2 linked regions of the Homo sapiens genome follow. The protein of the gene in region 1 interacts with the protein of each later gene in a pairwise test. Each region holds a gene or a part of one and is shown on either strand. Other genes may lie near its edges.

The links.
Region 2: the proteins of C6orf58 (region 1) and ANXA1 interact in binary tests that used the Homo sapiens proteins (3 or more experiments, as listed by UniProt).

The regions. Positions count from the first base shown.
Region 1 is NC_000006.12:127,576,086-127,591,936, forward strand, and holds C6orf58 (protein LEG1 homolog precursor), read left to right. Parts: upstream 1-1,088; 5' UTR 1,089-1,100; coding exon 1,101-1,401; intron 1,402-2,600; coding exon 2,601-2,687; intron 2,688-4,179; coding exon 4,180-4,364; intron 4,365-5,096; coding exon 5,097-5,197; intron 5,198-14,001; coding exon 14,002-14,240; intron 14,241-15,457; coding exon 15,458-15,537; 3' UTR 15,538-15,735; downstream 15,736-15,851. UniProt on the Homo sapiens protein: May be involved in early liver development.
Region 2 is NC_000009.12:73,146,991-73,162,841, forward strand, and holds the start of ANXA1 (annexin A1), read left to right. Parts: upstream 1-4,874; 5' UTR 4,875-4,934; exon of another isoform or gene 4,935-7,333; coding exon of another isoform or gene 7,334-7,352; intron 7,353-11,531; coding exon of another isoform or gene 11,532-11,545; coding exon 11,546-11,611; intron 11,612-11,704; coding exon 11,705-11,813; intron 11,814-12,338; coding exon 12,339-12,433; intron 12,434-13,272; coding exon 13,273-13,386; intron 13,387-13,812; coding exon 13,813-13,903; intron 13,904-15,791; coding exon 15,792-15,851. UniProt on the Homo sapiens protein: Plays important roles in the innate immune response as effector of glucocorticoid-mediated responses and regulator of the inflammatory process. Has anti-inflammatory activity.

The sequences.
Region 1 (15,851 bases):
GAACAAGCAGTACCAGTGACCTACTATGAAGCATATGCATCTAATTGTGTAAATAATTGAGATTTTCAGATGCATTACCTATTAATAAGGCAAGAATTTTTACTATGTGTGAATAAAACTTCAATAACAGTGGTTGAAACAAGAGAGTGGGGTGTTTCTTGCTCAGGTAAAACTCAGATATAGGAATTCAAGGACATCTCATGGCTCCACAGCCCTCTGGGACTCAAGCCACCTCCAGCTTTGCATTCTGTCATCCCTAAGATAGTGCCTTGCGTTTAGGGGTCAGAATTGAATTTCAATCATCACATCAATAATCCAAGCCACAACATGGAGGAAGGGAAGAGGAATTGACATGTGCCCTTCATTTTAGGACATGTTCCAGAAATTGTGGATACTATTTCTATTTATGTCTCTGTGGTCCACACTTAGTCACATGGTTGCTTGTGTAAAGCAAATTGGAAATTTAGCCTTAATTCTGGGAGACCATATTCCCAGCTAAAATTCTACGATTCTTTTACTAATAAAGAATGAAAAATAGATATTAAGAATTAACTAGCAGGTTTTGTTCCAGCAGGCTGACTTTCATTATTGAATTGAGCTAATTAGATATTCTTTAAGCTTCTTTCTTGAAGCAGAACATTGTATTACAACTGGATCACACATATTTTTAGTACACATTTGAAGATTATTATAAATCCTAGTATTTCCATCTCCAGCTATTTAATATTTTCCATGAAATATGTTAAAGTATTTTTATTAGAGGGAAGCATTCTAAAGCCATTTGTGATGTATTTTGTAATCACAATGCAGCCTGGGAAACTTCTGGAAGGTTTTTGTTGATAAATAGTTTTATCTAATACATTATAAACAAGCCTAACCTTGTATTTAGGTTCTGACACAGTATTCTGACGCTGAAGAGTCTGGGAAATTTAATTGTCCTAAATGTTAGCTAATACATCAATTTCTTCTACATTTTCACCCTATCCAGGAAAACAAAAAAGCAAAGTGTTGATATGCTGTGAGGTTAGCAAATATCATGACTTCCTCTTCCATTCTCCAATAAAAGCCCTGCTACGATCGCAATCCCCAGCTCTGGCACAATGGCTTTTCTTCCTTCCTGGGTTTGTGTACTAGTTGGTTCCTTTTCTGCTTCCTTAGCAGGGACTTCCAATCTCTCAGAGACAGAGCCCCCTCTGTGGAAGGAGAGTCCTGGTCAGCTCAGTGACTACAGGGTGGAGAACAGCATGTACATTATTAATCCCTGGGTATACCTTGAGAGAATGGGGATGTATAAAATCATATTGAATCAGACAGCCAGGTATTTTGCAAAATTTGCACCAGATAATGAACAGAATATTTTATGGGGGTTGCCTCTGCAGTATGGCTGGCAATATAGGACAGGTAAGAATGACTCTTGTTTTCATTGTAATGATCTACCGATAGACCTATGAAGTATTTGGGAAATTGGACTCTGTATATACCCTACTATGTTTTTAAAAATTGATTCTTTATCTTGTTCTCTTTTCCCTTATAATCATTGTTTTTCTACCTATCCTTCTCCTTATCCACAAATCCTTCTTTTGTGGGTTGTGTGTTATTATTAGAAGCTTCAATGAGGCATAAGACATAGTTATCAACTGTGAAAAGACATCACATCTCATCTATTGAGCATTTCACAAATATTTGTTGAAGTTCTACTAAGTGCCACACTCCTTTCTAAGCAATGAGATGAACAAAACAGTCAAGGGGATATACAAAGTGATGTCCAATTAGTTTGAATTTCTTGAAGTTCTAATTATGATATGAGGTTATAAAGAAGCATCACATTGTTCATGAAGATCTTTCTCTGTAAAATGTTTGCTTCCTCTTGGAAATAAGGTACCTTACAGTGTATAGACAGAAGTTACATTTTGGGATAAAATATACATGAATTGAAAGATACTTTTGTTCTGGTTGATAGAAGCTCATGAGAAAGAGTGGTGCCTGTTGCCCACTCCCTGCTGATGACACAGCCAATAAAGAAATTATTGTGTGTGAGAGAGAGGTTAAGAAAAGAGCAATTTCATTTGGAAGAAAAACAATGATTATTTTCTAATATTTACATAATGCATATTACAGGTGAAACACCTTTGGTGCTTTTTCTCACCTCACATCACAACCTTATAATGTAGTTAATATTATTATCCCCATGTCATAGATGAGAAAACTAAGGCATTAGAGGTTATTTAGATAAAGTCAAGCTAGTAAGTGGTAGAGCAGGGGTTTGTTTTGACTCTCGACCATCTCTTTTCATCTGTATGCATATTGCTTCATAGTTTCGATTAGAAGGTAGAGGAGGAAATAGAAGAGAGTATCCTTACAAAAGTAAATAATATTTAGGACCTATAACTCAAAAGTAGAAAACTGTGTTGTTAAGGAAAAGGAAAGAAATTAGAAACTAAAAAATAAAAGATAAAAAAAGAATGATGGGAATACAAACACATATCATTCAGAAATAAATGCTTTTGTATCTACAAACAAAATCTATGTGGTTAAGCAATAGTTACAGCCAGTTTCAAAATGCGTATAATAAATACGACTGTGCATCCTCTCTCCTCCAGGCAGATTAGCTGATCCAACCCGAAGGACAAACTGTGGCTATGAATCTGGAGATCATATGTGCATCTCTGTGGACAGTTGGTGGGCTGGTATGTTCGTTTAAGTGGCAAAATAGATATTAACCTTTCCTGAAAGAAAGCATTCAAACCTAAAATCTTAGGGACAGAGACAGAACTAAAATAATCCTGTTCCTATTTTAAAAAGGAATCTATTTCACCGTGTACCTTATGGCCTTTAGGTCACTTTAAGGGATTTAAGAGCCACAATGTCAATAATGATTCCTTAGGACATATCCAGCTTTTCACAGAAGGACGAAAACAAGGTTCTGCAAAAGCAGTGGCCTCTGAGGGGCCAGCTCTGGTAGTTAGGTGGGAGGTCCAACTGATGACAAAGAATCTCCAGAATAAGGAACGATGAGAAGTGAGACATCAAGACAAATGATGCTTTTTCATTTTGCTCAGACCAGATGTGGTTAATATTGAAACCCATAAACATGCCAGAGATTAATACCTACTGCAATTCATTATACCAATCAGTAATCTCAGGCTTTAATCATATACTTAATGCTAAAATAACCAGAAGGTATTTTCTAATTCTTTCATTTAATTTTATGCTTTAGTAATGAAAACAATTTATACCACAAATCCTTAGAGGTATTTCTCAATAGTTAGAAACACGACCACATTAAATTTCACTTTTTCAGGGCAACACACATCATATGTATCCTTAAGCATTTTCCACTTACTACCCCTAGTTCTTTTAAAAGACTCGCGAATAGTAGTGGCCACAGATCTAGAATTCAGAGTTTGTTATTCTTAGATTGGTTTAGTAGTTTGGAGGATTAGCCTGCTACACTGTGGCATAGGATTCCATTCACAAATGCCTGTCTAGGATGAAATATTCTACATCACTGATTTCTAGTGGAAATCAGTATAAGCCTAATATCCAACTAATGAAAATGTCTGAGTCTGCTGGAATAGGTGATATATAGGTAAAATTTTTTAAAATGTGAAAATAGTCATGTTTGATTGTCAGTCTAATGGTCTATTGTCAAAACTTACCCAAAATTTGTGCTTTAAAGGATAAAATAAGATAAAAATTTAGTGATATCATGATTACAAATTAAACTTATGTGTATAAAATAGAAAACATTCATTTACCAAAGCTATAATCATGTTAAAATATTTTAGAGAAAAATACAAGTACAATTCACAATAAAACCGTAATGAGAGGTTTTGTACCATTTTGTGGAAAAGTTGATAGCTTTCTTCCATTCTTACTTAATGCTTTGAAAAAATGAATATTATGATATCCATTAAAATTACTTTTTGTTTTAAAATATAGTCAACTACTTTAGCCAATATGTTATATATTTATGACTATAAGGTTATTAACAGAAATGCAATCAAAGTTATATATTTGATCCTTAGGGGGATTTTTGTTCAATATTTTTTTCCTAATGGTTAGCTTTTATAATGTTTCTGGGTCTGTGAATTTTTTTATGACTTATGCCTTCCTTAAAAATATCCTCTTTGAAATTTGTTAGTGCTTGTAGTAATAGTAAATCTTTTGTTCTTACAGATTTGAATTATTTTCTGTCTTCATTACCCTTTCTTGCTGCGGTTGATTCTGGTGTAATGGGGATATCATCAGACCAAGTCAGGCTTTTGCCCCCACCCAAGAATGAGAGGAAGTTTTGTTATGATGTTTCTAGCTGTCGTTCATCCTTCCCTGAGACAATGAACAAGTGGAACACCTTTTACCAGGTTCCTTCTTTATACTCTTACGAGATAGGAAGAGAGTTTATTTTGTCATATAATTTCGTCTAGGATTTTTTTGTGCATTACATAATATTTTCCTTAGTATGCAGATGTAAATTGCTATGCATGATATATTAATAGTATATTGTAGAGTGTTATGAGTCATTAACACCTACTGCCTCAATACAGCATTAACATAAATCTATCCATTCTTCTTGCCTCAAATACATTATACAAAAATGGTGAGCATACAGGATATTTTGCTGAATGATTAATAAGCTATTCTGATTAATTGAGTCTTCATGTCCACTAGGATATTGGAAGAAATTTGACTAAAATCAATGAAGAAAAGATATATTTACTAGTACTTTAGTAGATTATTGCATTAGTTTAGATCTAATGAAACATTTTAAGAAGATATTTTTGTTACTCACGATTTTATGGTAATTTTAACAGTGTTAACAGGAAAAAATAAAGGCCTGATCGGTATAAAATATAAACTCTGAAAATACTTGAAGTTCAATACTTATAGATGCATATGCTATTATTAAAACTAATGAATATTTTTGTGTTATTTAAAGAGTGTTAGGCATTAAGGCCATATACATACTTTTTCTTAGAAATAAAATTCTTCTTTTATGTACAATATTGCTAAAATATATCTGAACATGACTAAATTTCAGGGAGAAGGATTTTATAGTTGCTCAAATATTAATAAATTTGACCTCTTTACCTTAGTATTTGCAGTCACCTTTTAGTAAGTTTGATGATCTGTTGAAGTACTTATGGGCTGCACACACTTCAACCTTGGCAGATAATATCAAAAGTTTTGAAGACAGGTAAGAATGAATCTTTAAAGTATCTCTATTTAATATGATAAATAATTTTGGGCATTATTTATATATTTTTCTTCTTCTTCTAGAGTGTTTTTCAATCTTTATATTAAATAATAAGCCTAACCATTGGAGATTATAGTGAGGATGTGTAAATATTTTAACATGATCAGGCTTAAAAAAGTGTTTTATGAAGAAGGGGAAAATTTTGAGAAAAAAAAGCCTTGCATGAAAAAACAAAAAAAAAAGCAACAGACAATACATTTTCCTAAATGTAGAAAACAAAATATAATATAAATATGTAGATGACCTTTATTATTTAATCATAGACACTGTTACAAGAAAAACTATAGATAAGATAAATGTAGCAGAATTCACTTAAGCAATGAATGATTCATTAATCAGCATCATCCTGAACCAGTAGAGGTTCAGAGAGCTTCACCCAGTGATGTGGGCAGGCAGTATTTATAGACAGAAAAAGAAAGTGACATATGGAAACACCTTGATTGGTTACAGCTCAGATTTGCCTCATTTGGACATAGTGTGGTGAGAAATTTGCCTTGTATAGGCATGGTTTGATCAGTTGGCAGCCTGTGATTGGCTGAAGCTCAGCTGCCATGATTGGCTGAGACCCATATTTGTTACAAGAAAATACTCTTAAGTTTGGTTGCAGTTTGTTTACAAACTACATTAAGTTGCAGTTTGCTACATATCGTGGCAATTTTAGGCCAAACTTAATTTAACAATTCCCCACCTTTTGGTCTGCCTCTCAATTTTGAGAGGTTGACCAAAACCTTGGGCATTGACATCACTCTCTGTCACTTTCATCATTGACTTATTTGGTATCAGTATGGAATTCACAGTTCACAAATCAGGACAGTTGACTGATTATTTATGTTCTCTTTATGTTTTCATTATTCTAATTTTAATGAGACCATTTGACATAGAATGAATAGCTGCATAAGAGGATTTAAGACTCTGGGGAGGTTAAGGTGCACCAGGGAAACTATTATGATGGCTGTCAGGAGGCTGATACTAAGAGACAGAAGGAACCTCAATGAATTGAACCAACATAAATCAAATATATAAATAATAAGCCAGAAGAAAAATCTACTTGTTTTAACCAATTGGCTTGTTTGTTGATTTCTTACAACTGAGCTTCTACCCTACCTGATGAATTTACTTAAGTACAGGAGGGAGTGTTAGCTAGCGCACATATTCCTCCCTAAAGGTAGTCCAAAGCAATCCGGTTACCTAATATGCCTTTAGCAAGAAAATCTAAAGAAGTTTGCTGGCCAATTGTAGCCTTTGCAGTAGAGTCAGCTGTAGTAACTAATGTATGAGACGTATTTCTAAGCATAACCTCCTTTACATTTATACAAAGCCAGGGAAGGAATTTTTTACCCAACAATACCCATTAAGAAGAATTCATACCTGCTGGTAAATTCCTCTTTATTCCATAGTTCAAATTAAGAGTTGCAGACCAATATCCAGTTTCCAATTAGTTATGGAGTGACAGGAGTACTCTTGGAATCCCTTAATTGTCGGTGGCTCCTTATTTTGTAATTATTGAGACATGGATTTGCCCACATATATGGTTGGTTGTTAAATCCTCCACAAATAAAAATATATTCTGGAAGAACCCTACAGATAGTCTCCTGTGTGAGATGCCTTGTGCGTTATGAGTCAGCATTATGAGTCAGCATTAGTAATATTTGTCTAAGGCCTCATTTTTTAATCATTGTATGGTTAGAAGATACTAGCAACTAAAGGATTAGGGTTATAAATTTGCCTACAAACGTCGAATTATCTTCCTTTTGTTTTTCAAATTCAATTCTGGCTTAATTTAATTACCATACTCTCATTATAGGTTTTGCCTACTGTTAGATTTAAACAGGCAATCTGAATATTTGAATCTAAAAGTCTAGCTGTTTAGAAAGAACTAGATATTGCACATGGAATATCAGTGAAATTTCTTACAGGGTGAACCAGAGTATCTCTAAGATCATGTGAGGATTTAGGTTTAACATGACATATGCAATACTCAGTTAAGTTCCATGCAGAAGTAATTGAGTATGAAATCTTCATTATCACATTATATTGCCATGTGTAGACAGAAAAGAAACATGGGCCAAAAAGGAAAAGGAGAAAAGACTTCATGTTGACAGAGGAGAAAAGACTTTATTCATGATCTTGGGAAAGCTGTCTACATCAAGGATGCCATCTTCTTCTGGGGAAAAAAAACGTTCCTAGTAAGCTTTACCTGGAGATCTCCGATGGGTGTACAGTCCCAGGGGTCTGGAGGGGCTCTCTTGAGTTGAGAAATGTGGATCCAAGACTCAAATCCCTGAAGTTGTGCTGCAAAAAAGAGCTTGGTGTGGTACCTTCTGATGGAGTTCAAAGGCAGTCTTTCTTTGGTGTCGTTTCCAAAAGAACTGATCTCTAGGTTCTAGAACATGGAAAATCTGGTTGTTATCAGCTGGTGGGCTGCAAAGGGCTTCTTTTATCTGGTGAAAATATGCTTTGGCAAAATGCATTGAAGCCTCATAATTTTGAGTCATATCAGAGTTTAGAAGAACATGAGATATATGAGATTTTATTATTAGAGACATAGTCCTTCCAAAAACTATTTCATAAAGAGTCAATCTGTCTTTTCCTATAGGAGTGGATTTGATTGCTGTCAATCAGTAGGACCTTTGACCAATGCAATCCAACAAATTCTATTAACTTTTTCTAATGCCATTTTGTTTGTAATACCTTTTTAAACTGTTTTACAACTTTTCTGATAAAATGAGTGCCTATATTGCTAGAGATGTTTCCAGGAATGCCCTATAAGGACATTTTCTAATAACCTTTTCACTATTGTTATAGCATTTGCCTTCTCGCATAGAAAAGCACTTATAAAACCAGAAAATATGCACTGAAGGTGGCAATTGAATTAAATATGTCTGTAGGTGTTCAAATGATCCAGCATGTGCCAAAAATATATCACTTGAGGTTTTTATTGCCTTACCAGCATTATCAGTTTAACAAACCAAATATTAGTGATAAGGCATTTCAGAATAGTCACTCCACCAATATTTTCCTCATAGTTTGGATTATTTTATCTCTTCCATGATGAGTATAGAGTTTTTAATAATGGAAGCTTTTAGGACCCAGGAAGGACTAGGAAGCCATCTGTGCTTTCCATGAGTCCATATTTAACATTGAATTTATATTTTTTTAAATGTCAGTTTTGGCTGGCACACCCAGCACTTTGGGATGCCAATGCAGGCAGATCACGAGGTCAGGAGTTCAAGACCAGCCTGGCCAATATGGGAAACCCCGTCTCTAGTAAAAATACAGAAATTAGCCAGGCGTGGTGTTGCAGGCCTGTAGTACCAGCTACTTGGGAGGCTGAGGCAGAAGAATTGCTTGAACCCGGGAGGCAGAGGTTGCAGTGAGCTGAGATTGCACCACTGCACTCCAGAGATTGGGGACTGGGTGACAGAGTGAGACTCCATCTCCAAAAAAAAAAAAAAAAGTCAGTTTTGTATTTCCAAATCAGGTCAATAGCTTGCTTATTAAATAGGTTATCATAGGTAATTTGACTTGAGTCAACCTCATGATATTTGTTCAAACTGCTTATCTAAACAATTTCAGTTCTGGCTGACATAGCATGAAAATCTGCCAAAGCATTTTCTTAGTAATCAATTAATTCTTGTTCTACTTGATGTTGGGTTAGAAGTTTTATGAATCAATCAATCTCTTCCTAACAGTTCTGGGAACTCTCATTCGGTCCAATGGGATGATCAGATTTCTAGGAATTTCATAAAATTTCTGGAACATATATTAATAACACATCCATACAAATACAACTTAAAGAAGGTTTAACATTACTTATTATTTGACAATGCTTTCCATATTATTTATCAAATAGGCCCAATTACTTTAACATCTCTCTTTTTGTAAGGACGGATATCCTTTTGAGATGTCCCAAAGGCCCATCTGCAAAGCCCCAAAATTAATTTGAGGTCAATAAAAATACTTGATTTAGAATTTGATTTTTTGGAAGCTTGCCAAAAATATCAAAGGTTTAAAATACTTGATCAAAATAGGATCACAGATCACTTGGAAATAATAGTCATCCATTTTAATCAGAGTGATAATTTAAAGACTTTAAAGGCAAATGCAGAAAAATTACATAGTTATAGAAAAACCTTCGATCTTTTATAGAGAGGACTCAGTTGTTTAAATGATCAAAAAACCTAATGAAGACAACATGAAGCACAGGAAATTATCTTAGTAAAATGTGGAATCTTTGTTTTGTAGGACAATTACTTCAAGGGTAAAGAAAAACTTTTCACAGTGTCATACTAAGAACAGACTAATACTCCAAGAAAACCTTGGCTTAACACAGGGAAACAAATTCTAGTTTTGCATCAGTGTACCTTTGATATTAATGCTTGATTTTTAGAAAAACGTATAAATAATTCTCTTCTAATTTTAGCCAACTTGATCAACACAAAATTTTTTTTCACAAGATTTATCTTTCACACACCTTTTATAACTTTCTTATACATTCAGTTTTTGTCCTATACTTCCTCTCTTCTCATTTTGGAACAACCTGTCATTCCATACCCGGATAAAATTTGCTCTTCTGTTTCTTGAACAAAACGAAATATCCTCATATATTATAGCTTTTCTTACCAAAAGCACATTTTACCTGTCTACTTGCATATAGCTTTGTTTTCCTTATTTCTAGTGATTTCAATTATATATAATTAAGAATCTTAACTCATATTAACCTAAATTTCCAGTGAACACTAGGAAACAAGCAATTGTGAACTGTTGTGCCAGTAATCTGTAGACTGATAAATCTATGAATTATACTTTCTAGAAGCACGTGTTTTCTCATGGTAAATTTGTCAGTGTGGCACAAAATATGTTTATTAACAGTCCCAAAAAGCAAAGGAAAAGTCAGGCACACAGACTTTCAGTCAGGCACACTGACAGGAAAAGTCAGGCACACAGACGCTTCGAAGGGTGAGGGGAATGGAATTTATGGGGCAAAAAGGAAAAAGGAAAAATAATTCTCAGCAAACCAAGAGAGTCCTGCTAGCAGGTTTCCTACCTCACAGTTTGAACAACAGGCCACCACTCGAGCTGAAGAGAGCAGGCTCCTCCCCTGTGTAAGGTGCAAATTCCCTGTGGCTCCACCCCATGCTGCCAGTGAGCATGCGGGCATGCTCAGACAAGGCCCTGGGCATGTTTCCTCATCTGCACAAAAGCATCTGAGGTAAACACTTGTGGGGAAGGTTGGAGGATCTCTGGGGACCCCTTTTTATCTGCCTAGGCATTTGGCTGTCTCAACACTATGGTTCCAATAACTTCAAGTCTTTTCTCTTGAGCTCACCCAGTTTCCAGAAGAGACTCTTTCAGTCACCTGCTTCAGAAGTGAAGGCCTGGCTGTTAGTATTATTGAAGTCAAGAGAGAAGGAAGAAGCAAGGGGAGAGTGTCTTTGCATTCAGTATATCATTTACACTTATATCCTGTTTCCAAGGTGGTGTTCCTACCTTCAACCATGTTTAGTTCACACAGTTCAAGGACCCTCTGTTCTACCCTTTCCAGGGCAAGGAGTGGCAGTTACCTACTATTTGAAATCTGGAAGGAAATCTTTGTATATGATTGCTTCTTTAAAGTCTTTTAATCTCCCTGATTTTAGCAATCTCCTTTTACCCAGAAGGTATTACTAAGACTTAAATCGAGGAGAATTCTACAAATTATATCAGCATTATTTTTCTATTTTCCTCTCTGTTTACTTAGAATTTAATTTTCTTGATTCTATTAAATCTTTTCAACTAGTTCTTTTCAATTTTCAGCTTCCAAAATCTTGTTGTTCCCCACGTGTTCTGATTTTATTTCTTGTGTCATTTTTATGGAGATTTGTTAGGTTGCAAAAGTACAAGTATTTGTTAAAAACAGCATTTTTACTAAAAAACTCTTTTACCTAAAAATTCCCTTCTATTGTCTCTTTAATTGGGATCAGTTCAGAATATAATAAAATATTGTGTTATGGATAAATTTATATATAGGTGCACTATTAAGAAAGCTAAAAATACATGTTTTCTATTAATTCACCTCACTGAAAGTTTAATAATAGTTCCTCAGGCAATTTGAATATTTTCAAAGGCTTATATTGGCAAAAGGTAAATCTTTTAATATGATTATTTTGGAAGATTTCAAATACCTGCTTATGTGCTCTGATTTGTTAATCTACCTGTTTATGAGGTCTCTGCTTTGTCAAGGTCTATGAATTCATATTACAAGATTCAAGGCTAATGATTGTTCCTTGAAATGAAGTAATAATGTACAAATTAAGATGTTTTGCTTTGAAGTTCCACAGACCTGAGTTTTAAATCCTGGCTCATTTGACCTAGGAGTTCAAACAAGGAGAAACTCAATTTTCTTATTTTTAAAATAGCAATAACAATAGTACATGCCACATAGGGCAATTTTGAGGATTAATTAAGAAATCCATAGGTTATGCTTAACGTACTGCTGGCATATGAGAAATATTCAATATAAAGTAACTATTATCACCATGACAAAAAGCAGTAGTAAAGAACATGGATTTTAAAGGCAAATTGACAGGGTTTAAAACAGGGCCCTGCAATTTACTATGTGTGAGGCTCTGAGTTAAGTTAGCTTTGTTTGAAAGAAAGCAGCCCAATCAACAATCACTAAACCTCAGTGTTGTACAACTGTGTTTATTGCTCAGATGTCTGGGGTTTAGATATGCTGCTCTGCTGATCTTTCCTGGGTTCACTCTCATGTTGGCTGATTTTGATTGGCTCCAGCAGGGATGACTGGGGAAGCTCAGCTCTGTTCCCCGTCTCATTCTACATCAGACAAGCCTGGTTGTTTTCCATAATGATGGCAGAATTGCAAGAAAGAATAACCAAATTGTGAAAATGTATTTCAAGTTTATGCTATGTCAAAATCGTTAATATTGTATTTTTTAAGTCAAGTTACATGACTGAGTCAGGAGTGGGAATTTCTGCCTATCACTTAATTTAGGAAGAACTGGTAATGAAAGTTACATAGCAGAAGACAGAATTGTAGGGATTGGAGAACAACTGGGGCCATGGTTACAATCTATTGCATGCTGTGAAACAACCCTAAAAGCTCATCAAGTTACTTTCTTTAGGCAAATATATATTAAGGAGTATTTACTTGAGACAGTACTGTATATTTTGTAGCTTGCATATACTCAAATAAAACTCTGTGGCTCTGTATCCTCAGATTGGCTGACTTATGTATGCCTGTGTTTCAACTTTATGTGAATCATTTCAAGTGTACTTTAATTCTTTCTTTGGTGACCACATTCTATCTGATCATTAGGTGAACTGACCAACAAATCATTCAACTGATGCATTTGAAGAGTTTATTATTGAATTTCTTCACTGCTCTTGTGATTTCTGTGTATTGAACTGGTGCACTCATCTCTTCTCTCCCAGTGATTCTGACTTACTTCCAATTTGTTTAGTACATTGTTACTAGACCTCTGTGGCCCTTGCTCAAAATCTTTATGACTTCATATTTCCTTTCATCTTTGCTTGGTAGGTGACTGTAATGTATTAAGGGGCATTGAATCCCGACCAAACACTTCTGTCATCGACAATCCAACTCTGCCCACCCTACCACTTCCAAGTATAGGGCAGGGAGGATCCCACAAGCATAGGAATCAAACAGATAACAGGTATTATCTGGGTTATGTTATAGTTTATTTAATCTCAACAAGCATAATGCAAGTACCTTCTGTTTAATGTATCTTTTCTATGTTGCTGTCAAAATAAAATCAGATAATCGAATTTCTAGACATGATAATAGAATATAACTAGAGAAAAAAATCCTTCAAATATGTGGATGATATAGTGTTATGGGAATATAGAAGAGAAGAAAGTGGTAGATTCCACCTCAGGTGGGCTGGAATGCCCTTCACCTTTGTGAAGAAGGTAATATCTATGATGAGACTTGAAACAGAATGTACCTGCTGAACCACATGGTGAGTACACAATGTCTCAGGGAGAACAAGTCTGTTTGCAAAACTACAAGTTGTTTAGCATGCTTAGACAGCTCATAGAAACAGAAGACATGACTTTTATAGTTCTAAAACTACTGAATATAACTTTAATCTTTCCATTGTAATTATTTGTCCCCATTTCTTAGGAGAAACTAAACTTTCTCACCTATTATGGGGACAAATAGTTACAGAGGCTTTTCTAATAATTACAGAGTCTTTTCTAACAATTACAGAGGCTTTTTTTCTACCTGAGGCTTCCTGTGGTAGAAGAATGCCAATTATTTACAATTTAGATCTAGATATTATTTTTCTAGAAATCTCAATGTTTCTGGGATCCCTGGCTTTAAGAAATCAACAGTTTCACAAAGGATATTTGAGTCTAGCAAAAATTTTGCTTTAGACCTTTGATATTTATCTCTACATTGGCAAAGAGTATGATTTAAAAATGCCTTACTTTTGGTTATTAGGTGGTATTCAAGTATAATGTGCTGAATTAAAGAAGATAAAATGCAATGTAAAATGTAAACAATTAGTGAGATGATTCTTCCTAGATTTAGAATTTTAATGAGCCAACTTCACACCTCCTGAGGGATGGAATAAAGTCATCACAATATCAAGCCTATTTTCTAAATTATAAAATTATGAATTTAGTTTGTTGGCAAGAACCAATATTTTCTGAAGGCAATGAGCTTGAACTTCTGAGGTGACTAATTATAATTAAATACTTTTCCGTTTGTCTTTTAGATATGATTATTATTCTAAAGCAGAAGCGCATTTTGAGAGAAGTTGGGTACTGGCTGTGGATCATTTAGCTGCAGTCCTCTTTCCTACAACCTTGATTAGATCATATAAGTTCCAGAAGGGCATGCCACCACGAATTCTTCTTAATACTGATGTAGCCCCTTTCATCAGTGACTTTACTGCTTTTCAGAATGTAGTCCTGGTTCTTCTAAATATGCTTGACAATGTGGATAAATCTATAGGTAAGAACCTTAAAAGGATACTTTTAAAAATCAGTATTATGTTGAACAAATAGAGGAAGAAATAATAATTAAATCAGTGATATAAACATTACAGCACTCCAAAAATAAAGATTTCCCTGTGGGTATCCATTCTATTTCTTTAGCAATAATCACTCTTGATATATAGAACCATTTAATGAGCACACATTTTAATCTTCTTACTCATGGTCTGTCCTTTCATCTGGAGACCATGTTGAAACTTGAAGTTGGCAAACCAACTGAAACACTTTTGTTTTGTTCTACATACCGATATATATTCCTTATTTTGCTCATCAGATCATTTAAAAAAAAAAACTTTCTACTTTGCTCTTATATTTAAAGAAAATGAAGACATTTCAAAAGAAAACCTGCCATGATTAATGAAATTACTAGCAATTTGGCTTACTTGAGTTCCCTTGATCCAATACTATTAGTCATGGAAGAAGGGTTTTATTCTAGCCCTTCAAATGCTGGATCTTCTAGTGAGGTAAAAAAAACAGAGGGTTCTTTATCTACCAGTTTGAAAGTGACTATATCATTCCCATTTGCCATACATGAACTGAAGCATTGAGCCAAATTTAAAACGTTTTTCAAAGCAAAAACATCAAGTCTGAAAGATAAAAATGGAGTAAATTAAACATGAATAAATTAAACCTATGTTTAAAAAAAACCTCTGCATCAGTTAGAGTAACAAAAACATCCAAACACTTTATAGACTTCATACAATTGAAGTTTTTCCTTTGGTTCTAGTGCAGCATTCTCTGTCAGTAGGCAGCTTCCCTTCACACAATCAGTAGCAGACCAAGTCTTCTTCATTCTGTGAAAATTTTTCTTGGAGCTTTTTCCCAAAAATGAGTTGATCCAATTTATTCTGTTTAATAGATATATAGTGTTATTATTAGTTATTGCCAATAATATAACAATGACATTTTATATATATTTTTCTTGCATAATTTATTATTTTATCACCAAATTCATAGAAAGAACGTGAAGTAAAGTTGGTAAGTCAGGTATTGCCAAATGGTATTGCCAATAATTCTATGAATGACATGCCATGCTTACTTTTCTTTGTATAATTTATGATTTTACCATTAAATTAGTAGAAAGGAAATGAAATAAAATTATGAGCCATATATTGCCAAAAGGTACTTTAAAAAATTTGCAAGAGTTTACATGTAATCATTTTGTATCTTTTACAGGTTATCTTTGTACAGAAAAATCTAATGTATATAGAGATCATTCGGAATCTAGCTCTAGAAGTTATGGAAATAACTCCTGAAACATTTAACTTCAAACTTCAGGAAATGATTAATGAATTAAAAATGAAAAACTCGAACTTGACAATCAGTAATTTCAAAAAATTAATGTCATCATGACCATGTAGTTTATTCTTTCTGATATTTTTGATTTATGCTTATTTGTTAAGATCTTGTACATGTATTAAAAACTTAAATTAAATGCATTCAAGTTAAAATAATGATTATTTTGCTCATGATTTTAAAATTCATTAATGATTAAAATGTTTAAGATAAAAGGATATTGCATTATGCTACCAAAAAATAACTGAGAAATTAACAAACATATTAAACTTGT
Region 2 (15,851 bases), on another chromosome or scaffold:
TTAGGATTTATCAAGTTTCTCTTTGAAAGAAAATTTCATTTTTCTATTGGATAATAATCTATTTATGATAAAGTTAACCAAAATCACCCCAACCAATGCAAAGCAAACATTTATTGTGGCTTGGTCTGGAAAACTTTCATTACAAATTTAGCTACAAGATATTTACAGAATATCTTGTAAAGTTTATTGTTTGTTTTATATATTTACTCCCATTTTAATTCCAGATCCATCCAGATCCATGTTTTTTTATTTTTTAAGATAGTATAAAGATCCAGTTTTTGTTTAACTATGCTAGTTTAAAGAATTGTTTTAAATCACTTTTTAAACCTATTGAGTTAAAATAGAAATTGAAAAAAAGTCATTATTAAATTTAAGGATATTAATCTTTGGTTCGTGTCATAAATCCATGGAGTTGGCAATGATTATGTGAAGACTTGCTGTATTTTTTGTGTTCTGATTACATAAGAATTTTTGAATTATTATATTAGAAATTATATGGTCCTGGTATATCTTAGAAAGTATATAATCAAATGAAGTTCCTTTTTTTCATAATAGACTCTAGTTTTTAGAGAAATTTTAGGTTTACAGAAAAATTGAGCAGAAAGTACAGAGAATTCTCATATACTCAATTTCCCGCTGCTCTTAGTTTCCCCTGTTACTAATATTTTGGATTGATGTGGTCCATTTGTTATATTGGTGAACCAATATTGATACATTATTATTAGCTAATTGCCATAGTTTACATTAGGGCCTACTCTTCATGTTATACATTTCTATGTGTTTTGCCAAATCCATAATGTATGCATACACCATTACAGTATCATACAGAATAGTTTCACTTCCCTAAAAATCTCTTTTTTTTTTTTTTTTTTTTGAGACATAGTCTCGCTCTGTTGCCTAGGCTGGAATACAATGGGGCAATCTTGGCTCACTTTAACCTCTGCTTCCCAGGTTCAAGTGATTCTCCTGCCTCAGCCTTCTGAGTAGCTGGGACCACAGGCGTGCACCACCACGCCCAGCTAATTTTTTTTTGTATTTTAGTAGATGGGGTTTCATCATGTTGGTCAGGCTGGTCTTGAACTCCTGACCTGATGATCCGCCGCCTCGGCCTCCCAAAGTGCTGGGATTACAGGTGTGAGCCACCATGCCCAGCCCACTTCCCTAAAAGTCTCTTATTTATTACTCCTCCCTGCCACCAACTCCTGGCAACCATTGATCTTTTTACTTTCTCTATAGTTTGCCTTCTCCAGAATGCATCTCATTGGAATGAAACAGACATAGCCTTTTCATACTGTCTTCCTTTACTTAGCGATACTCATTTATGATTCCTTCATTTCTTTTCCTGGTTTAAAAGCATTTCTTTTTATCATTGAGTAATAGTCCATTACATAAACGTACTATAGTCCATGTATTCACTTACCTCTTGAAAAATATCTCAGCTGCTTCCAATTTCTGGTAATTATGAATAAACTGCTATAAGCATACATGTGCAGGTTTTTGTGTAAACATGTTTCCTAACTCATTTGGGTAAATATCTAGGAGCACAATTGCTGGATTGCATTGTAAGACTCTGTTTATCTTTGTAAGAAACTGCCAGACTATTTTAAAACAGCTGGAACCTAGAAAGCAGAGTTTGACCTTTTGACCTTAACACATATCTTCATTTTCCTTCTGCAAAACTTCTTGAAAATTATTGAAGTAAAATTTGTTATTATAGCGAATGTGACAAGGTCTTATTCTCTTACTTTCGAATAATATAGAGAGGGATATGGATACTATACTCAGGGATTAAACAAAATAACTTGTGCAATACAAAATTACTAATCCTAGCATGATCCTGATGTTGGAAGTATACTAGTTGAATCACCAAGTCATTCGCTGACTTTTCCTAAGTCACACAGTAATAGATACTAAGCCACCACCAAATTTGAGTTTTTATCTTCTCTAAGATTTTCCACCCACAAAAGGAAATATAGAGAGGCAGGGAGGTAAGATCTTTTTCCCTAAGTGAAGTCCAACAAAGGTACCTCCCTTTGGCTCTAGCTACCCACATGACTACTTCATTAACCTGAAAGAGTAAAATTTGAAAAAAAATTCTGTCTTTAATTCATGTGAATAACTGAGGAATAATAATAATAATAATCTCAATAACTCAGTGTGTGTGTGATAATTATTTGCCATGTTTAGAGGCAAAGGGAAAACATTTAGAATGTTAGCCCTCAAAATGCTTTGACCTGGGGACACATGAGAAACACACACTAAAATAATGATTTTTGTTGGCTGTGGATAGGGGGTATGAGGAAGCTGTGGGGAGATTTTGGAATATCTGTGAAATGCTGTTCTTGATCATTCAGAATATACTCTTTCTTCCATATAACAAGTAATGCTTAGATAGAGTTAAATGTAAAGGATGAGGGGACAGCTTACTAAGATCAGATATTTTGCAAGAGTCTTATGCACAATGAGATGTATGTGAGAGACTCCATATTTCCTCTCCTTGTTTTGTTTTGTTTCCTCTTCACTATCAGATTCTAAACCAAATGAGTGAAAATAAACATGCTGTGAAAAACGTAACATATAGAGATTGATTTTAACTGTCTTTTTTCTTTCCTTCTCTTTCTTTATTTTCTCTGTTTGTAAAGTAAGTGGAGCCGATGAATCATCATCTTCTAGAAACAGCAAGAGTGGTGAGTCATTTCTCTGGAGTATGTGGCATTTCACCCACAGAAAGCATTTAACCCATGATTATCCCCTCACTGTTAATGATAACATATTTTACTTGTTCTTTTATTTCCATAAATCTACTCGACATTATTATTATGCGGAGAAAAAGATTCTGACAGATTATTCACAGCAATATACCTACATGATTAGTGGCTTTCTTTTTGTGTTATGTTTGGGAGTTTCACTTGCCTTTAGTGTTACAGCTGGAAGTTAATTTTGGAAAAACATTCTTTTCACTTTTTTTTTCTTAATTCTGCTACAATTATCATATTTATTGTTGCTATTTTAGGTTTGCCTATGTATTACAAATCCAAACATATAAAATAATTCCATTCAGTTTATGGCACTGGTAATAGCAGCAACAAAGCAAAATGAGACTATACATGTTTTCTAGGTTGTTATATTTTATAAAAAGTAAGTGGAATTTTTTCTTCATTTCACAAGAGCATCACTGTGCAGGAATGTTCCAATAGTTCCATTACCAGAGTTAGGAATACAAACGCAAATTAAAGAAAAAAAGAAAACCAGATTTTGTATAATCATCTTATTCCTTCTCACCTGATGACATAAATATGGTATTAGAAAGTTAGTCTACATCTGTCAAGATCAATTTGCAATAATATCAATTAACTTAACTTGTTAGCAGGTAACTAATTAATTTTCAACTTACACATATGATAGTAAAAACATATATTGACATTTTCTTAAATATTTAGATTAGATGATCATCCTACTTCAGGATATGTTGACTTCATTGATATTGGCATCGAGCACTTAGAATGTATTATAAAATACTGCCAATCTTTAGAAAGTATTTTCATTAACTTCCTAAACTTCATGTTTTTTATGTGAAATATCTATGAGGAAAAGAGGAAAAAGAACAAACCACTAAATGCAGCATAAATTGAGCCATAATGCTGTGAGATTTTACACCTGTGCACTTTAATGGAAACATCATATAATACTTTGTAGGGTTTAAAGAAGAATGAAAATGAACCACTATGGAAGTTACCAGAACCAATTTTCCTCCATTGGGTGGGAAATTTCTTATGGAATGTGTTCTGTAATAGTTGCTGCTCCATTAATCCTTTCATTTTATAGGTCTAGTTCCTTGTTTTGGTGTTCAACTAGTCTACAATGTCAAAGATGTGTATCAAAATGTATATATAACTGATCTATATTACAGTTTATATATATAGTTCTATGTAACTGACTCTATTTAAAAGAATTAATGTAGATAGGCCTTCTGATGTCAATGCTTTTATTGAATGTCATAATGATCAAATTTTTGGCATTACCTTTGTTCAAAATTTTGAGCCAATCTGGAACTTTATTACTTCTATATTTCTTATTTATAACAACAAGCTATATCTAGGAACAAAAGTCGTTTATTTTTTAAGGCAAGAAAAATATAAATAGAAAATTATTCGGCACTGTGTAATGTTAAAATTTACAAATATATGTTATTTCTCCATTGTCACAAGAATTCTAGTGGGTAGACAACTTAGATAATGCTCCTATATACAAAAGTAAAAACAGCTAGGCATGGTGGCTCACGCCTGTGATTCCAACTCTTAGGGAGACAGAGGCAGGAGGATAGCCTGAGCCCAGGAGTTTGAGACCTGCCTGGGCAATATAACGAGACCCCATTCTCCACAAAAAGCGGGGGAAAAAGACAACAAAACAAAAGTAAAAACAGGTTCAGAAAAATTAAGTATGTCCCTAAAGTCACAGAATAATAAGTGATGGAGGTGGAATTCAAATGTAATATTTTGTTTGTTGGTTTGTTTAGTTTTGAAGGTAACATACTTTTTAGTCTACAACCTATTTAACTACAAAAGTGTGCCAATCACTGGTATTAGGATTGGGGCAGATGTATACTCTGAAAATAAAAGTGCAAAATAAATATCCCATCTGGAAATAAAAGTGCAAAATAAAGAGGGAGGAAAAATCAGCCCTTCCATTTCTTTTCCTTTGTAATGCCAGTTGAATTGGTTTAGTGAGTAGTTTTGCAAGACTTGTTTCACTTTGTTTTTGGACATAGCTGAGCCATGTACTTCAAACAGAAGGCAGCCAATTACTAACTTCTGGTTGCTAGGTGTGGCTTCCTTTAAAATCCTATAAAATCAGAAGCCCAAGTCTCCACTGCCAGTGTGAAATCTTCAGAGAAGAATTTCTCTTTAGTTCTTTGCAAGAAGGTAGAGATAAAGGTAAGTCTTGGTTTTCCTTTTAGTTAGTTTTGGTTGTTTTGAAAACTTTTCTCATCACTATGTTAAATGTTACTGCTTCTACAGGATTTATGGTTAGTTGCATTTAACATGATAAGTCATTCATAAATCTTTCTGTAGAATTACATTGGATATTTATATTTTAGGAATCACAAATTACAATATTTTTGTTCTACTTAGTTAACAAATACAAGTAAAAATAAGATAAGTTTGCTTAATACTGGCTCATTGTACTCTTGGTAAGTTACCATGAGAAAGAAGGGAAGAATGTGCTTTCCCTCTGGTAGCCTTAAAAGAATGTGTTTTTCCTTTCCTTCCCCTTGAAATATTTCTTCCCAAGAGCTGTGTGTTTTACAGAGAAATCGTGATGGGGGCTGCTTTTTGGGGGCAAGAACAAAAGTGATAGGAGTGGGCTGCAGGGAACTGTTTCAAAATAGTAGGACTTTCATAATTTATTTTCTTCTTTTGTAAGGAAAACAAGATAGATTCAGACCTCAAAGTGCTAATCATGCTCTTTGTAATAAACATTTAAAAATATATGTTATATTTGCTTATGCTATTTAAAATAAGAAGGTCCGCTTATTACTTTTTTCATTTAAAGAGGGTGTGGCCACATTCCTTTTCTTGTAGGCTCTGTGTCATATACAGTCTTTTCAAGTGCTGGCTGGAAAACCTAAAAAGAAGGGAAATACTTTCTGGGTAGTGTCAGATACATTATCCTAGGGGAATGTCAGTGAGGCCCTCCAACAGCTATTCCACTTGATTGTTGCATGAGCTAATGGCCATAAAACTCCTTAGAAAAGCACAAAGCAAAACTAAAGAAGAGTATTTACTAGTGTTGGATATATTTGTAAAAGTGAGATTACAAATCATGTATCTGGCTATTTTTTTCTTAAACATGTTCCTTCAAGAATTTTTCTGTTCGTTCATTTTAAATATTTATTAAATGTTCTGATTTCTTATGTTCACTGCTAGCTAATTAACAAGGATGGAATTTTTCTTGCCTTGGTTATATCTAAAAGATTGTAAAAACTTTGAGAAAGCAATGTTGCCCTCTTTCCACAGGAGTATTTTGGTAGCTGTAAGAGAATGCACATTGCAAATGACTCAAATGTGGTAAAATGTTGGTTTCATAATTCTGAAATGGCCTCTTCCCCAAAAGTGACAGTAACACCCTAGCTCCAGGCTCAACCACATCCAGCACATAGCCAACATTTAACAGATGTTGACAAAATAGTTAATAATAATATTATTAAGGAACCAGCCAGAGTTTCATGCTTATTAAATACTTTTTCAACCAGAAGGTCTGCAAAGGTTGATTTCTGAATATGACGTTAGCTCTCTCTAGACCTATTAATTTACGACATTTCAAATCAGAGGTAAACCAGCAGACCTATTATTTTTCAATGATAAACTATAAACAGTTTTTTGAAGTCAACTATTTCCTTTTCCTTTAAAATTGGACAGAATTTCATCAGGAAGCTCAGAACAATCCAATTTATATAATGCCTTCCTTCATTATGCTAATTTTCTTCATCTTCATCTACTTGAAGTAATATTTAAGATTGGCACTTCAGAGCTGTAAATGGATCTTAGATGATAATTACTTCAACATTCTTATTTTATAAACGAAGACCCTCTGGAGAAGCTAAATGTTTTTCTTGAGGTCAGATCGCCAGATAATCAAGAACCAGTATACTTCAATTTGTATTTTATATCCTATAGTTGTGGGTAGAAAATGTTCATTAAATTAGTGTAGATATGTTTTTTAAAATATTAGCAATGATACATGATATTCATTCAATAATACTTATTAACATCCTAAATTCCAGGCATTTTGCTAGGGATTGGAAGTACATACATAATGAATATTATTATTTGTATGTTAGCACGGGCCTCATGGCCTGCTCCTGGGGAATATAAACAAGCCAATGGAAAGTGATAATACAGAAAGGTGGGGCTGGTGTAGGGGTGAAGTCAGGATGCTTTGGGAGAGCATGGAAGGTCACCGAATCCAGTGCTGAGGAACTAATGAAGGGTTTCTGAAGAACGTGATGAGATCAATGCTGATGAGTCACTTAGAAGTAGCAATTAGTTAGGCAAAGGGAAGTGAATGTGGAGGAGGAACAAGCATTCCAGGCAAGAAGAACACCCTATCGAAAAGCCTGGAAGCAAAACATTAGTGAGGCTACCTTTCATAAATTGCTTTCTGTAAGTCATGCCATTGTGTAGTCTTAATTGCTTTCTCTCACCAGGGAAGGTGTGGGAAGGACTTGTGAAATACATATTCGAGGAAAAACTATGCACAAGGCCGTGCATTTAAAAATAAACTCCCTAAGGCTGGGGTGAAACCTGCTACGGTCTGCGCAAGTTGACTGTTAATGAATTTGATTCTCAGGTGTGAGTGATTAAAAGAACACTGATCATGTCATTTTCTTTTTGGTCACTAATTCCCTCCCTCCCTTCTCTTTCTTTTCTTTTTTCTTTTCTTTTCTTTTTCTTTCTTTCTTCCCGACAGAGTCTTGTTATGTCGCCCAGGATGGAGTGTAGTGGTACAATCTCGGCTCACTGCAGCCTCCGCCTCTTCCTGGGTTCAAGTGATTCTCCTGCCTCAGCCTTCTGAGTAGATGGGACTACAGGTGCACACCACCATGCCTGGCTGATTTTTGTACTTTTGGTAGAGACGGGGTTTCGCCATGCTGGCCAGGCTGGTCTTGAACTCCTGGCCTCAAGTAATCTGCCCACCTTGGCCTCCTAAATTGCTGGGATTGCAGGTGTGAGCCACCATGCACAGCCAAAATATATAACACTTTGGAATCAAAAGGGATGGATTTATGTCTCCATTCTTGCCACTACTAGCAGGAAGACTGCTTGAAAATAGCACTCAGTTTTCCCAGATAGAAACTGAGGATAATGATTAAAGGCTATTATTCCAAGCAAGGGTTAGTCATTGCTGTTACTATCATTGCAAAACTCTGATAGTTCTAGATTGTAACCAGGAAGATACAATCAACCACAAAACTCAGCTTCCTCTGTCACAAATTCTAGATAGAGGTAGCCTTTCATGAGGCTGAGAGATGGAAAAATGAAGCGGGGGGACTCTCTTAGGACACATAAATATGCAAAAAAATTGCTACGCTTTAGAAAGCTATACATTCAAATCATAGATAAGCTGACATTAGTAGGCAGTGCATGTTCACAAAAAGACCATTAATTAGAAGAAATGTGAAATATTGTTAATTTCCTTATAGATTTGCCTATGTATAAATGGCCAATTTCACCGTCAATGAGCTCATGCTAAGTACTGAAATAAACTTAGTTTTAGAGCTTATCTTTGGTTAGTTGAAATCTGTATTGAGTTAGTTGAAATCTATAAGTTGATAGAACAGGCTCTTTAAAATCTATTGCAAGCTTTATACACTACAAACAAAAAGATAGAAAAAAGAAAACCTTTCATGAACTCATTGGCTTAGGCAGGTTTTCATGCAGAGTGTAGGTATTGAAGAGTCAGAACGGCTTAAGGATAGAATTTGGCCAATATATAAAAAAATATATATTTGGTATTTGTTAGTTGTATTATAATTATTCAGAAGTTCAGTTAATACGTGCAGTTGGCTTTGAGCCCTTAACCAGCTGTATGTGATAAAATCTGTTTCCTTTAGAGCAATTTCTTATATCCTGCCTTGATGCTCCTGTCTTTAATCTTTGCTAAGAGCTGGTGGTGAATTTGGCTGAATTCAGATTCCGTTTTTCTCTAATTGATTTCTTGAAGAAAATTCTCTATTGGTTGCTTTTCTTTCCTAGATTATGCTTTTAGTCTATCCAAATACTTCAGGCTAGAATGTAGGAACTTAGAAGATACAAATCACAAAGCTGTCTCCTCTAGGGATGCTCTCTCTTTCAAATAAGTGACTTAAACAACTTATTTTTGTTATCTTGTGTTATGTAATTAATATACCTTTTCCTGGGCTTTCTCTGGCTTTTTTTTTAAATGGACATTATTCAAGTATTTTTTAGAAGTAAAAAAAAAACAGTACAGTAAAGTTTTTATAACGTTTATTTTGAAGTTGTCAGAGACACCTTTAATATTAGACTGGACAATATCTTTAGTCTTTCTTTTGCTTTCTTTTGAAGTTTTTATTTGCTAATTGAAAAGAATGGAATAATAATAATAATAATAATAAATAAATAATAATAATAAATAATATAAATAAATAAATAAATAAATAAAATAAATAAATAATAAAAACATGTTTTTATAAGTGATGGAGTAGTACTTTGCCAAGTGATGAATTTTAACACTCATTTTGATGATTCTTCCTTATCAAAGCCTTGGATGAAATGATGAAAATGGAAATTTTGAGTGCCTGAAGCTGCTAGAATTGCTTTTAAAGTATTGGGTGTGCCAATTAAGAAGGTGGAATATGAAACTCCATGTGGCAACCGCAATTGCATGAAACTAGACTGTAATGGGAACTAAAACCTTGTGCAAAATTGCGGGTTGTTACTTTATCAGGAAGCAATTTTAAGTCTATCAATTATATTTAGGAAACAGGCTGCTTTAAATGAATGGAAAAAGTATTGGTTCTTCTCACAGATGACAGAATAGTAATAAGAGCAATCCCATGCGAATTAAGTGGGGATGATTTCTGCTTTGGATATTATTTTCTTCATGCATTCAGTGTTATTACTTGCAACTCCAGTTACTTTTTAGCAGGTGAAAATGGAAAGAGTTTGTCTGAACATGCTGTTGAGGAATCAGTTTATGGAATCAGTTTATGCCTCATGAGTCATTTATCTTCATATCAAGAATTTAAAACTGCCAAGATTGTCCTCCCAACCTCTCTCACAAACATTCATGAGAGTAGTCTCTAGAGGGGTGAAACAGAATGGTGTAGATAGACAGATCAGTGTAGACCTTGAGCAAGGCCTCTGAAAAACATCCCCAGACTAAAAGGATCTGTGATGGCATTTTGTGTGTGTGTGGCCAAAACAGAGAACACATTAATTTTCAATATACTTAAGATCTTAAAAATATATGTCTCATTAAATAAAAATATTGCCAAGTCATGATAGCAATTCAAGAAATTTCCTTTAAGATAGAGTTTGCCAAAAGAACATGCATGTTACAATTGCACCTCTAGGCTTCCTGCTACAACAAAAAAATCCAGTATAAAATAATTCTTTTCTGGGTTTTTTGTGTTGGGTGGGAAAATATGTAGGACTACTATTTAGACAGCTCAAATAGGAAGAAATGTGAAGATAGCAATTACTTCAATGCTGAGTACTTTTATATCAAGAAATAGAAAAGGAAACTAAATTATTCAGGGAGAAATATCACCTGGATATCTTTTTACAATTAAAATTTTAAATCTGAATTCACTTGTACAGATTGGCACAAGTTATTTTACCTTATAAATGTAATCATTGGCTGGGAGTGGTAGCTCACACCTGTAATTCCAGCACTTTGGGAGGCCGAGGCGGGCAGATCACTTGGGGTCATGAGTTCAAAATCAGCCTAGCCAACATGGTGAAAACCTGTCTCTACTAAAAATACAAAAATTAGCCGGGCGTGGTGGCTGGTGCCTGTAATCCCAGCTACTCAGGAGGCTGAGGCAGGAGAATTGCTTGAACCCAGGAGACGGAGGTTGCAGTGAGTCGAGATTTCACCACTGCACTCCAGCCTGGGCGACAGAGAAAGACTCCATCTCAAAAAAAAAAAAAAAAAAAAAAGCAATCATTAAGCTTTTCATCTAGCCATTACTTTTGTACAGGCTCTCATTAATTCCACATAGATGGTCTAATGGTCTACTAAATAGTATTCTAATCCTCCATCTTGTCTATCTCTTAGCCATTCTCCATGATAAAGGATGAATGGTCTTTCGGAAACATAAATGAAACCATGCTGCTTTAAAAAAACAAACAAACAAAAAGAAACCCATTAATGTTTTCCCAAAGCTTTGTGGACACATTGAAGCTTCTTGTTTCAGCTTCTGCCAACATTTCTCGCTCCAGCAAACTTTCTTCTGCTTCCCAAATATGACAAGCTTCTTCTTTAACTTTTCTGCCAGGTTAATCTTGACTCATTTCAAGAGAGGCTTGGGTCAGCCAGGGCCTACTCTAAGAAGTTTCTTTAGCCCTTATGTTTTCCTATGGAGAGCACACACTAGCTTTAAGTCCTGAGGGTACTTAAGATGATATTTCAATGTTTTTGTACTCTTAGTGCTTGGCATATGGTGGGTGGTCTACAAATTTAGAACAATGTAGTGAACCACAAACTCCTCTCTTCAGCCTGTGTGCTTACTTGTAGTAGTTGTCTGATCTCTAAAATTTAGAACTGAATATGCCAAGAAAGAGTTCAATTTCAGAGAGGAGGGTATGGTTTCATTTTAAGTATAAAAGCTTCCTTTAAAAAAAATTACGTCTTACATTTTGTTATGCTCCTAAGTGTAATTGATCCTGGAAAGTAAGCGCAAGGCTACTCTCTAATGCTAACTCTTATGTATGTAAGAGGTGAGGAAGGAGAGGTTGTGTGTGGTGCATTTGTTTTGTAAAAGCATCTAACTGTTTTCTTTCCAGACACTTTTTCAAAAATGGCAATGGTATCAGAATTCCTCAAGCAGGCCTGGTTTATTGAAAATGAAGAGCAGGAATATGTTGTAAGTAGAGTGATAATAAAATTATGATTACAATATTGAAATAAAAACGAATATAAGTAAATGGCCATTAATTTATTTCTCTCTCATTCTTAGCAAACTGTGAAGTCATCCAAAGGTGGTCCCGGATCAGCGGTGAGCCCCTATCCTACCTTCAATCCATCCTCGGATGTCGCTGCCTTGCATAAGGCCATAATGGTTAAAGGTAACGTGTTTCCTCAAAACAGTTCCCTCCTGGACATTTCAGAATGGCTATTTGAATGACTGTCAAAAAACAGACATGTGCAATGGAAAGAATCTGTTTCATTTTGAAGATAAAAACATTTCTTTGCCAAACGAAGATGTAATTATTTACTTAACACTGAGGAAATTGTGTTCACATCAGTGGAATCTCTATTGTTACAGCAGATATTACTGGCTCATTTCTAGCAGAAATTCCATGCTGAAATTAAAAGCTCTGTTCACATATAGAGTTGCAACTAGTATCAAACACTGCAACACTGAGGGCCAGGAAAAGTTAATTGTCTCTTCCTTTCTCACTCGAATGAAATGTCATTCTCCCAAGTGCTTCCTTGATATGTAGTATAGCATCGATTTTTTAGGCTGATATATAATTTATATTTCTTAATTTGTTAAGAAGTTCTTTTGGAGCATCTCAGTAATGAATTATTTTATGTCAATTGATGATGAAGAAAATTGGTGTTAAAGGCTGTTGGCCCTTTATTTCCAGGTGTGGATGAAGCAACCATCATTGACATTCTAACTAAGCGAAACAATGCACAGCGTCAACAGATCAAAGCAGCATATCTCCAGGAAACAGGAAAGGTAAGTTAGAGTGGTAAATTTAGATATTTAATTTCAGCATAGTTATACTTAACCATGGATTCGGAAGCACAGTTACCTAGTTCTTTAAGGTTCTAACCACTGTTTTCTCATTACATCTATGATTGGGATTGCAGTGTTTATCCACTTTGTTGCAATTTAATCAATTTTATCAAATTTCCTATTTTTATACATTAGTCATCTTGGTGTATATTGTTTGCAGATGTGGTGCTCTGGGGACAAATTTTTAATTTGAACGTAAACATCGAGATTGCTGCTGTCAATAAAGAATATGGTCTGATTGAAATGTACTAATATTTAAACTGAACTGTTTAATGCCTAAATTTTATATATAATTCTACTTTAAAAATAAGCCTTATGTCTTTTATACCAAATATGAGTAGTTTTCTAAAGCAATGAAATTAGAAAACTATATAATTTCAGTATCTGATTATACTGCTTGTTATTTGAGAAGTACAAACCTCAAAGATTGGAAACATGAATATATTATTTTAAAAGTAATTTTACTTCTGTTTTCTGTTAGCACACAGTCCTCTGTGTTTTGATCTTTGTGATTTCTCCCCTGTGTATAAGATTACTAACCCTATGCTTTAAGAAGTTATTGATGAATTCAGTAAATTTTATTTTAATCCCTCTAGATCTGGAAGGGTAAGATAATGTTTCAAAATATTTGGTACACTTTGTATGTGAAGGGAAGAAGCTCTAAAAGATGGTTGGGTTTAGGGATGAGTTGTACGATGACCTAAAGTCAGGTAATATCACATTTTTTAACCTAGCATGTTACTTATTGGAAGTCCTGATTCTAATCTTTTTTTTTGTAGCCCCTGGATGAAACACTGAAGAAAGCCCTTACAGGTCACCTTGAGGAGGTTGTTTTAGCTCTGCTAAAAACTCCAGCGCAATTTGATGCTGATGAACTTCGTGCTGCCATGAAGGTAAATCGCCCAATTTGAGCAAACTCCTTTCCTCAAGAGGATGTATTGGGCAAGTCACTTATGCTTATGTTATTTTCAAAATCTAGTATAGTACCTGTCAATCAGTGGGAGTTTGAAGAATAAATAAATTAATACCTCAATGAAGGAATTAATATATAAATGAAAACAGAAATGTTGGCACTAACACCTTCCATGTCATGTCACTATATGAGTCATATATTTGCATTTTTATTTTTACCCAAAATATTGATGATAAACTTGTTTTGTTTTAGGGCAATGTAATAGAGCTTATTGTAATTATTAAATGTTGTGGGTGAAATTTACTAAATGACAGAGTCAAACAAATTTTGGAACACCAAAAACTCATTGATCCTCTTGCATGAAGATTTTTTTCTACATTTATCCTTTTCTTCTCTTCAAATTTAGGGCCTTGGAACTGATGAAGATACTCTAATTGAGATTTTGGCATCAAGAACTAACAAAGAAATCAGAGACATTAACAGGGTCTACAGAGAGGGTAAGTTGTAATGTCCAACAGTCCAAACGCCTTATTTGAAAAGGAAATCTAATATACTTTCTTAAAATTGACTGTCTATGGTAATTATGGCAGCTTTGGAATCTCCACATATCAAAATGTTTCTTTATTGTTTGGCACATGTCTATTAAATGCTGTTACCAGGCAACGCTTGAGTTGCTAGGTTGCTGACAAGGGAGATGGTGTCCCAATCCGCATCAAGCTTGCGTTTTAATAGAAAATGTTCCTCTAGGATAAATGGCCACATACGATTATAATGGAAACCTCAATTCAGAGCATTGAATTTTTAAAAATTTCTGAAAAACACTTTTCTATTATTCTGGAATGTATTTTATAAAAATGTCCCAAGGTCATTTTTTTTGAAAAGAATATATAATAACAAAAAAATCTCCTAACAAAATGTTTTTCATTTGTCCTTGAAAAAGTAAAGAATTAGGTGCTTATAATTCTCTGTTGGAAACCTTAACTTTATCGTTATGAACATAAGAGACTCACTTTATCTCTAGTTAAATTCACAGAATAAAAGACTAGTCTTAGCTTATTTTATCTCTCCAGTGAAGCATCTCATTTAAATGATGTGCTCAACACTGAAAAGAGGGTAATTGCAAGTCTCTTACCATTTTCCTACTCTCATTTCCCTGAGCTGCTGGCTTTTTGGCTTTCCCAATGCAATATATGGCATATAGAAGATCTTTCTGCTTGATTCTCATACCAAGCATGGAGAATACAATAGCTTTTGCATATCATTTTCAGAGGAATTTAATAAAAGAATAAAAATAAGGAAGCTTTTAAACCTCATTTTCTGCAATTCTTATTTAATTACCAATGTTTATGTTAGATCCATGTGTCAGTGGTAATAATGATGATTATTTTTGTTTGATAAAACATAGTTTATAAAAATAAGTGTTTATATATTTTTCATATGGCCAAGATATAGGCCAGTGATAGTTTATTACATTGCCCAGTTTCAAGTTGTTTTAGTCCGTTTGTGTTGCTATAAAGAAATATCTGAGACCAAGTAATGTAAAAAGAAAGGAAATACTGTACAAGTAGTATGGGACCAGCGTCTGCTTTTGATGAGGGCCTCATACTACTTCTACTCATGGCAGAAAGCAGACAGAAGCAGATGTGTGCAGAGAGGGAGAGAGAGAAAAGGAGGTGCCAGGCTCTTTTCAACAGCCAGTTCTTAAAGAAACTATGAATGAGAACTCACTCCGAGCCATTCATGAGGGATCTGCCCCCATCATCCAAACATCTCCCAACAGGCCCCACCTTCAACAGTGGAGAATAAATTGCAACATGAGACTTGGCAGGGCCAAACAAACAATATGAAAACCATAGCACTAGTCAATTATAAATTCAATTATTTTTTCCTATTACAGTATTATTTTATGTAGTTAAGCAGAAGTGTTTACACACACATAAATCATCAAACTGCATTACTTATAAGACATTTATAGTTTTTAAACTAAATAAATAATTTGCATTCAAGCAAGTACCTCATTTTGTTCTTTTAAACAATTATTTTATTCATTCTATTGCTTAAATTCTGCCATGTTGTATTTCAGAATTAATTACTAATGTATACCTATACAATTTATTCTTAACGAAAGCTTTATGACTGTGAGTTTTCAATCACAGTATTATCTAAATTGCTCCCATTGCTTCATATGAAATAAATTCAATGATCCAAAAATTTACCTGCTTTAATTTTTCTCTTCTTATTTAAAAATGATAATATTTTGCAACATGTTCCATAAGTCATTGAACACTGTGGCACTGTGAATTTTCAACCAACTTAGAGATGTCAGATATTCTTATTATTATTCATCACTGGTTTACTATAAAATCTATTTTTCTTTTTTCTCAGAACTGAAGAGAGATCTGGCCAAAGACATAACCTCAGACACATCTGGAGATTTTCGGAACG